2 separate regions of the Homo sapiens genome follow, and region 1 is linked to region 2. Evidence: fine-mapped expression QTL. A gene starts in region 2. The other region holds a variant in brackets. All regions are shown on one strand. Distances are between the middles of the regions.

Region 1 (5,233 bases), 180 kb after region 2:
GTTTATTGCAGCACTATTCACAATAGCAAAGACTTGGAACCACCCCAAATGTCCATCAATGATAGACTGGTTTAAGAAAATGTGGCACGGAAATAGAGCCAAGATGGCTGAATAGGAACAGCTCCGGTCTACAGCTCCCAGCGTGAGCGACGCAGAAGACGGGTGATTTCTGCATTTCCATCTGAGGTACCGGGTTCATCTCACTAGGGAGTGCCAGACAGTGGGCGCAGGCCAGTGGGTGCGCGCACCGGGCGTGAGCCAAAGCAGGGCGAGGCATTGCCTCACCTGGGAAGCGCAAGGGGTCAGGGAGTTCCCTTTCCGAGTCAAAGAAAGGGGTGACGGACGCACCTGGAAAATCGGGTCACTCCCACCCGAATATTGCGCTTTTCAGACTGGCTTAAAAAACGGCGCACCACGAGACTATATCCCACACCTGGCTCGGAGGGTCCTACGCCCCCGGAATCTCGCTGATTGCTAGCACAGCAGTCTGAGATCAAACTGCAAGGCGGCAGCGAGGCTGGGGGAGGGGCGCCCGCCATTGCCCAGGCTTGCTTAGGTAAACAAAGCAGCCGGGAAGCTCGAACTGGGTGGAGCCCACCACAGCTCAAGGAGGCCTGCCTGCCTCTGTAGGCTCCACCTCTGGGGGCAGGGCACAGACAGACAAAAAGGCAGCAGTAACCTCTGCAGACTTAAATGTCCCTGTCTGACAGCTTTGAAGAGAGCAGTGGTTCTCCTAGCACGCAGCTGGAGATCTGAGAATGGGCAGACTGCCTCCTCAAGTGGGTCCCTGACCCCTGACCCCCGAGCAGCCTAACTGGGAGGCACCCCCCAGCAGGGGCACACTGACACCTCACACGGCAGGGTATTCCAACAGACCTGCAGGTGAGGGTCCTGTCTGTTAGAAGGAAAACTAACAAACAGAAAGGACATCCACACCGAAAACCCATCTGTACATCACCATCATCAAAGACCAAAAGTAGATAAAACCACAAAGATGGGGAAAAAACAGAACAGAAAAACTGGAAACTCTAAAACGCAGAGCGCCCCTCCTCCTCCAAAGGAACGCAGTTCCTCACCAGCAACGGAACAAAGCTGGATGGAGAATGACTTTGACGAGCTGAGAGAAGAAGGCTTCAGACGATCAAATTACTCTGAGCTACGGGAGGACATTCAAACCAAAGGCAAAGAAGTTGAAAACTTTGAAAAAAATTTAGAAGAATGTATAACTAGAATAACCAATACAGAGAAGTGCTTAAAGGAGCTGATGGAGCTGAAAACCAAGGCTCGAGAACTACGTGAAGAATGCAGAAGCCTCAGGAGCCGATGTGATCAACTGGAAGAAAGGGTATCAGCAATGGAAGATGAAATGAATGAAATGAAGCAAGAAGGGAAGGTTAGAGAAAAAAGAATAAAAAGAAATGAGCAAAGCCTCCAAGAAATATGGGACTATGTGAAGAGACCAAATCTACGTCTGATTGGTGTACCTGAAAGTGATGCGGAGAATGGAACCAAGTTGGAAAACACTCTACAGGATATTATCCAGGAGAACTTCCCCAATCTAGCAAGGCAGGCCAACGTTCAGATTCAGGAAATACAGAGAACGCCACAAAGATACTCCTCGAGAAGAGCAACTCCAAGACACATAATTGTCAGATTCACCAAAGTTGAAATGAAGGAAAAAATGTTAAGGGCAGCCAGAGAGAAAGGTCGGGTTACCCTCAAAGGGAAGCCCATCAGACTAACAGCGGATCTCTCGGCAGAAACCCTACAAGCCAGAAGAGAGTGGGGGCCAATATTCAACATTCTTAAAGAAAAGAATTTTCAACCCAGAGTTTCATATCCAGCCAAACTAAGCTTCATAAGTGAAGGAGAAATAAAATACTTTACAGACAAGCAAATGCCGAGAGATTTTGTCACCACTAGGCCTGCCCTAAAAGAGCTCCTGAAGGAAG[C/T]GCTAAACATGGAAAGGAACAACCGGTACCAGCCGCTGCAAAATCATGCCAAAATGTAAAGACCATCGAGACTAGGAAGAAACTGCATCAACTAACGAGCAAAATCATCAGCTAACATCATCATGACAGGATCAAATTCACACATAACAATATTAACTTTAAATGTAAATGGACTAAATGCTCCAATTAAAAGACACAGACTGGCAAGTTGGATAAAGACTCAAGACCCATCAGTGTGCTGTATTCAGGAAACCCATCTCACATGCAGAGACACACATAGGCTCAAAATAAAAGGATGGAGGAAGATCTACCAAGCAAATGGAAAACAAAAAAAGGCAGGGGTTGCAATCCTAGTCTCTGATAAAACAGACTTTAAACCAACAAAGATCAAAAGAGACAAAGAAGGCCATTACATAATGGTAAAGGGATCAATTCAACAAGAGGAGCTAACTATCCTAAATATATATGCACCCAATACAGGAGCACCCAGATTCATAAAGCAAGTCCTGAGTGACCTACAAAGAGACTTAGACTCCCACACATTAATAATGGGAGACTTTAACACCCCACTGTCAACATTAGACAGATCAACGAGACAGAAAGTCAACAAGGATACCCAGGAATTGAACTCAGCTCTGTACCAAGAAGACCTAATAGACATCTACAGAACTCTCCACCCCAAATCAACAGAATATACATTCTTTTCAGCACCACACCACACCTATTCCAAAATTGACCACATAGTTGGAAGTAAAGCTCTCCTCAGCAAATGTAAAAGAACAGAAATTATAACAAACTATCTCTCAGACCACAGTGCAATCAAACTAGAACTCAGGATTAAGAATCTCACTCAAAGCCGCTCAACTACATGGAAACTGAACAACCTGCTCCTGAATGACTACTGGGTACATAACGAAATGAAGGCAGAAATAAAGATGTTCTTTGAAACCAACGAGAACAAAGACACAACATACCAGAATCTCTGGGACGCATTCAAAGCAGTGTGTAGAGGGAAATTTATAGCACTGAATGCCCACAAGAGAAAGCAGGAAAGATCTAAAATTGACACCCTCACATCACAATTAAAAGAACTAGAAAAGCAAGAGCAAACACATTCAAAAGCTAGCAGAAGGCAAGAAATAACTAAAATCAGAGCAGAATTGAAGGAAATAGAGACACAAAAAACCCTTCAAAAAATCAATGAATCCAGGAGCTGGTTTTTTGAAAGGATCAACAAAATTGATAGACCGCTAGCAAGACTAATAAAGAAAAAAAGAGAGAAGAATCAAATAGACACAATAAAAAATGATAAAGGGGATATCACCACTGATCCCACAGAAATACAAACTACCATCAGAGAATACTACAAACACCTCTACGCAAATAAACTAGAAAATCTAGAAGAAATGGATACATTCCTCGACACATACACTCTCCCAAGACTAAATCAGGAAGAAGTTGAATCTCTGAATAGACCAATAACAGGAGCTGAAATTGGGGCAATAATCAATAGTTTACCAACCAAAAAGAGTCCAGGACCAGATGGATTCACAGCCGAATTCTACCAGAGGTACAAGGAGGAACTGGTACCATTCCTTCTGAAACTATTCCAATCAATAGAAAAAGAGGGAATCCTCCGTAACTCATTTTATGAGGCCAGCATCATTCTGATACCAAAGCCGGGCAGAGACACAACCAAAACAGAGAATTTTAGACCAATATCCTTGATGAACATTGATGCAAAAATCCTCAATAAAATACTGGCAAACCGAATCCAGCAGCACATCAAAAAGCTTATCCACCATGATCAAGTGGGCTTCATCCCTGGGATGCAAGGCTGGTTCAATATACGCAAATCAATAAATGTAATCCAGCATATAAACAGAGCCAAAGACAAAAACCACATGATTATCTCAATAGATGCAGAAAAAGCCTTTGACAAAATTCAACAACCCTTCATGCTAAAAACTCTCAATAAATTAGGTATTGATGGGACGTATTTCAAAATAATAAGAACTATCTATGACAAACCCACAGCCAATATCATACTGAATGGGCAAAAACTGGAAGCATTCCCTTTGAAAACTGGCACAAGACAGGGATGCCCTCTCTCACCACTCCTATTCAACATAGTGTTGGAAGTTATGGCCAGGGCAATCAGGCAGGAGAAGGAAATAAAGGGTATTCAATTAGGAAAAGAGGAAGTCAAATTGTCCCTGTTTGCAGACGACATGATTGTTTATCTAGAAAACCCCATCGTCTCATGTGGGGAAAAGCAAGAGAGATCAGATTGTTACTGTGTCTGTGTAGAAAGAAGTAGACATAGGAGACTCCATTTTGTTATGTACTAAGAAAAATTCTTCTGCCTTGAGATTCTGTTAATCTATAACCTTACCCCCAACCCCGTGCTCTCTGAAACATGTGCTGTGTCAACTCAGAGTTAAATGGATTAAGGGCGGTGCAAGATGTGCTTTGTTAAACAGATGCTTGAAGGCAGCATGCTCCTTAAGAGTCATCACCACTCCCTAATCTCAAGTACCCAGGGACACAAAAACTGCGGAAGGCCGCAGGGACCTCTGCCTAGGAAAGCCAGGTATTGTCCAAGGTTTCTCCCCATGTGATAGTCTGAAATATGGCCTCGTGGGAAGGGAAAGACCTGACCGTCCCCCAGCCCGACACCCGTAAAGGGTCTGTGCTGAGGAGGATTAGTAAAAGAGGAAGGAATGCCTCTTGCAGTTGAGACAAGAGGAAGGCATCTGTCTCCTGCCTGTCCCTGGGCAATGGAATGTCTCGGTATAAAACCCGATTGTATGCTCCATCTACTGAGATAGGGAAAAACCGCCTTAGGGCTGGAGGTGGGACCTGCGGGCAGCAATACTGCTTTGTAAAGCATTGAGATGTTTATGTGTATGCATATCTAAAAGCACAGCACTTAATCCTTTACATTGTCTATGATGCAAAGACCTTTGTTCACGTGTTTGTCTGCTGACCCTCTCCCCACAATTGTCTTGTGACCCTGACACATCCCCCTCTTCGAGAAACACCCACAGATGATCAATAAATACTAAGGGAACTCAGAGGCTGGCGGGATCCTCCATATGCTGAATGCTGGTTCCCCGGGTCCCCTTATTTCTTTCTCTATACTTTGTCTCTGTGTCTTTTTCTTTTCCAAATCTCTCGTCCCACCTTATGAGAAACACCCACAGGTGTGTAGGGGCAACCCACCCCTACAGTCTCAGCCCAAAATCTCCTTAAGCTGATAAGCAACTTCAGCAAAGTCT
Region 2 (5,227 bases):
ACAGGAATAAATTCACACTCAAGGTGACCCAAGGAAGCTACCGCCTGGGATAAAACCCCACTACTGCCCCATTATCAGCCTTGAAGAGTTTTATGGTATGAATATTGAACTGCTTTGGGGGAATAATCTCTTCCTCTGATAAGGATATTTAGATAAGGAGTTTTTCCCCTTATCTAAATATATTCTAGGCGTTTACACTGAATTCGGGGGATTCAGTAGAGAAGGAAACAGAGTTCTCATGGAGCCTACATTGCACCATCATGGCAACTCTGCATGACAACACCCTAAGACCAGCTCCACCCACCAGAGAATAATCCTAGATGACCTATTAAAGTCCCCTGCACTCTATTATCCTATGATTTTTCTGTAACTCTCTTGGCCTCTTTGCTTCTTTCCTCTCCTAAATTTCATGCAGCATATGAGTTTCCTGCTGGTCATGCTACACTCATTGTACTAATAGGTACCTCTTCCTTCTGGAAGCCTTTCCTGTAGCCTTAGCAGGCTGGGCTTTGTGGCTTTATGCTGTGCCCTTGGCACTCTTCATGGGCTTCTATCAGTGGGTGAATCTCATTTTATATTCCTCACTTTAGTGCAGGGGCAGTTTCTCATTGAACTTCACACCCTCCAACACCAATCACAGCACCTGGCATAGAATAGGCACTCAATAAGTATTTGCTGCACTGAGCAATCTGTAGGGGCCAACATGGAAAGTTTTCCCTTTGCCCTCTTAAGGTTCACTAAAAAATCAACTTGCAAAAGGCAGATTAATTGGAGAAAAAGCATATAAATGTATTTAATGTGTATACCCGGGATCCTTCAAATGAAGACCCAAAGATACAGGGGAAATTATCCATTTTTATGCCTAGGTTCAACAAAGTATGGGCAGTGACGTAGAAATGTGATCGGACAAAAAGTGTATGATCTAAGACTAATAGAGGGAGAAAACCCAGCAAGGCCTGTCTGTCTGGATTCTTCTTGGCCTCTCTGAGCATGCACTCTTTCCTTCTGGGTATGGGACAGGACTCCCTCTGGAATGGGGGTCTTATGACCTACAGTCAAACAAGGGAAGTCAAATAATGTCTTTATGGCCAGATTTTACACAGAACGGCAGAGGGAAAGTCCCCACAGTCCTTGTATTAATTCCCTAGGGATGCCTTAACAAAGCACTCGGTGACTTAACAGAAATGTTTTGTCTCACATTTCTTGTGACTAGAAGTCCAAAATCAAAGTGTCAGCAGAACCAAACACCAAGCTCCCTCTGAAATCTGCAGGGGAGGGTCCTTCCTTGCCTCTTCCTAGCCTTTCTCCGGTGGTGGCCGGCAATCCACCGCATTCCTGGGCTTACAGCTGCATCACTCTGATCTGCCCCTGTCCCGCCACATTTTCGTGTGTCTCTGTCTTCAAGTGGCATTTTGACACCGTGTGATAAGGACATCAGTCATGTTGAATTAGGAGGGTCCACCCCAATGATCTCGTCTTGACCACATCTGTAAAGACGCAGTTTTTCCAAGTTAGGTCGCATTCACAGGTGCTGGAGGTTAGGTCTTCAATGTCTTTGGGAGTGGGGACAAATTCAGTCCTTAACACTCATGTTCTATATGTAGTGCTGCTTAGGCATCCAGCCAACAGACCTGCTTATTTTACTGCAGTCAGAATACCTTCTCCCCTTCCTCCTCACAGTCCAATGACACAGACGTGCTTTGGGGGCAAGATATTTGCGGGCCGTGGCCATCATTCTAAGCATGCAGCACTCCAGGCACCAGGAGTCCTCCCCGTGCTTCAACCCCTCTTCGATGAGTTTGCACCCCCGACCTCCGCTAATGTTCACATCCTTTAACGGGAGCCAGTCTTCTGCTACGTAATTAGACGAGTCTTGAAAGAAGCACCCAGGGGCGTGGCTGAAGACTTTAAGAAACACCAGGCAAGGGAGGGGAGTGGGTACCAGAGACACCTAACATTATTTGAGTGGCAGGAGCTTCCTCTGACCTTCAACGAGGTAAAGAGACATCACAGCCAGCGAGAGTTTGGGGCAGACTCCCCAGACTCGGAGGCCGGGGCAAAGTGGGAGCCGGGGCCAAGTGGGAGCCGGGGCCGTGTGGGGTGGGGGGGGGGGCCCAAGGCGGGGAAGGCCCGGGCCGCCGACAGGGGGCGCGCGAGGGCCTCCGGGCCCCGCGGGCGGGGCGGGTGCTGGACCCGGAGGGGCCTTCCGGCAACTTTTTGGTTGGTGCCGCCCCGCCCAGGCCCCTTTTAAACTTGATCTCCGCAGTGCCCTCCCTTTTCGGCCGCGGCGCGTGACTGGGTAAGTGGGCTCGGACCTTCTGGACGCAGGAGCCGACCACGTGGCTCCGGGGCTACCCCGTGCGCTTCCTAGGCGCGCCTCTCGCTGCCCCCACGCCGAGGCCTCGGCTCGGCGCCGCGGGGAAGCCTCCGTTAGGGCCCCTCGGGGGTGGGGGCGTCCTCGTGGCGCTTGGGCCCTTCGTCCCGGGTTAGGACGGCCCGTGTCCTTGTGCGCTTGAAGGGGCCGCCCCCTTTCCTCGAGGATCCCACCCCCACTCAGCAGAAGCCGCCAGGCGCCCGTCACCTCCCGTGCCTGAGTCCCTGCCGTCCACGCATTCGGCCTACAGGCAGCTTTTAGTCCTTTTTCAATTAAATGATTGCATTTTGAGGATCAAATTCCAACCGCAGGCGGAGGCGCCGAGCCCCGGACGGTCTCTGGGTTCTTGGTGCACTCGGGGCTCCTGCCTGCCCAGGGGCTGTGACCGCGCGGACGGAAGCCTATTTGGGAAGCGAGTGAGATCTGATGTCTGAAGCGCTTTAAGTTTCTAAGCGGGGCAGTATAATAGCGGGGTTAGCAAACACACGGAGGTCATTTCACTCGCGCAGCCATCCCCCACCGCCACCAGTGCCGTTCATTTGCTACTGGCCCGCAGTCAGATAATTTAAAGGCTTGGAGGGACGAGTCTTGCTGGAGCCGACGCCTACAGTAAGTTGAGCGGAGTGCTGTGAGCCCTAATAAGGGAGCCTGCTTTCCTCCCGAAGATTCGCTTTTTTGGGAGTGGCCAGAGCGTTATTACAGCACAGGGCCCGCTTCCAACGTTTAATCAGGGTGTGAGGAGGCCCTTCGTGGTTTTCTGACCTGGGAAAAGTCTGAACTACTGGGTTCTTTCTGGCTTGGACCAGGACAAGGTGTTGAACGCCTAACTTAGGTCTACTAAGGTGTAGAAATACGCAAGGCTGCCCCTAGAGAACGTTTGTCTGGGGAATAATGTAAGTTTTTGGAGCGGCTCTCCTGAGCATCGCTGAGCATACTAATTGTTCATTACTGGTACAAAATGCTATATAAAGGGATACTTTGCGAATTTAGTAAAATTGATAAAGATCTAAATTTACATTTGAGTCAACAAATAATCTTTGTGGCTAGCATAGGTACCACAGTTCTGTTGGAATGTGAAGCTCGTGGTTCACCTGTTTTCCTCAGTTGTGAAAGATTTGCTGCCTTTTTGATGAAACCAAATGGGACCCATTTTACCATTCTTTAATGAGGAAAGCTTGTACATTTGCAGCCTAGGTTCTAGGCATCTTTTATCCAGCGTTATAGATAGACCCAGAGCATGGACAATTTTCCCTCCCTGGAATACCTCCAGCTCTGGCGAATAGCCCTATATACAGCACAGGAAGATAGCGGTGGTAAGGCTTTGTTTTACCATTGCTTTAGGTGTTAGAGATTCTTATTGAGCCCATTTTATTTTTATTTTATTTTATTTATTTTTTTGAGTCGGAGACTCGCTCTGTCACCCAGGCTGTGGTGCAACGGCGCAATCTCGGCTCACTGCAACCTCTGCCTCCCGGGTTCAAGAAATTCTCCTGCCTCAGCCTCCTGAGTAGCTGGGATTACAGGTGCCCGCCACCATGCCCAACTGTTTGTATTTTTTAGTAGAGACGGGGTGTCACCTTGTTGGCCAGGCTGGTCTTGAACTCCTGAGCTGGTGATTCGCCAGCCTCAGCCTCCCAAAGTGCTGGGATTACAGGCGTGAGTCAGCGCACCCGGCCTGCCAAATTGTTTTTTAACTATTCAGTTTAAACTGTGAGAGACACCATGTCAAGGAAGCAGTGTGAGCTAGCGTCTAAGGATTGTGAAAACTGAGCAAGTGCCCAGAACTAGAAACTTCCCAGCCCCCTGAACTCAGCCTCAGGGTAAGCGAGTTTAATAGTGCTTCCTTTGATTTTCAAATCTGTGGAAGGTTTGTTTCAGTTTTTCCCAGACAAATATTGTTGGGATAGTGTTTCTTTTCAAAAATGGATAGGATTCAATGCTCATCAGTGGGAAGATAGTGACTCCTGACCATTTTCCTCCTAGCTGGAAACTACAGAAGACTCCCAAGTATCAGGAAATTTGGAGAATTTGTACAGGAATTATATTCAGAGATAGCAATTTATTTACTCATCAAAGAGAGCTATTGGATAGCCACCATAAAGACCACTCATTAAAAAACAAAATTGCATGATATTCTTAACATTGTCTTTCACTTTTTTTAACCAGGCTTGGTGGAGTTTCAAGATGCTGATGAACTTAAGGTATGGGCCGAGTGGAAAGAATTTGGTTTAAGTTATTAATAGTTGAATTGAAATTGTGGCCAAGGATGAGAACTCTAATCTGATTTTATGTGCTTCTGCTGTGATGGATTAAAGGATTTACCTGAGGCCAAATTGGTATGCAGGAATTTATTAAATGGAATCATACCCCCCCCCCTTTTAAAATTACGCTTTTGGTAAAAGGGAAAAAGCTCTTGGTAAATGGATAATACTACTAAGCCAAGAGAAAGACAGGATTTTGAGTGAAAACATAAATTTAGATGTCACAACATTACTAAAGCAACAGTGTGTAAGATACTGGACGATTTTATTTACTTACTTGCACAGTTTTTGTAAACAGTCTAGACAGTACTGTATTTTGCTATTTAGTAATACCTACTGTGATACTTCTTTTACAGGTCTGGCGCTTGAAAGAATCAGTGAAGCTTTTCAAGTAGAGGAGGTATATTTGAATATGTAACCTTTAGTATCTACAGAATAGAGGTTGCTTTTTTTTTTTTTTTTTTGTCCCTTTCACAGTGGTAGCAAGGTTGAATTTTGAGATGGCCCCAATCATCTATAGGAATATTATTTGACAGTTTTGGAGACACAAAACTGCCTTATAGCTGACTTGATCCTGTAGAACATTTCTGTG

Evidence for each region. PIP is the estimated chance that this variant, and not a neighbour inherited with it, causes the effect.
Region 1: its variant is the best candidate, but not a certain one, in a credible set for the expression of SNHG26 in whole blood (INTERVAL, PIP 0.50).

What each region holds. Positions count from the first base shown.
Region 1 is chr7:23,035,640-23,040,872 of GRCh38, forward strand. No RefSeq gene overlaps it. Among named protein-coding and RNA genes, the nearest start is that of HYCC1, 24 kb to the left of the region's middle. The variant C/T (reference allele first, on the strand shown) is at 1,953.
Region 2 is chr7:22,851,982-22,857,208 of GRCh38, forward strand. SNHG26 (small nucleolar RNA host gene 26) reads left to right here and starts at 2,259. Exons shown (of 5, transcript NR_146320.1): 1 at 2,259-2,299; 2 at 4,541-4,575; 3 at 4,992-5,035. SNORD93 (small nucleolar RNA, C/D box 93) reads left to right here and starts at 4,632; the gene lies at 4,632-4,705. RefSeq lists a silencer at 2,074-2,533 and enhancers at 2,631-3,242, 3,034-3,263.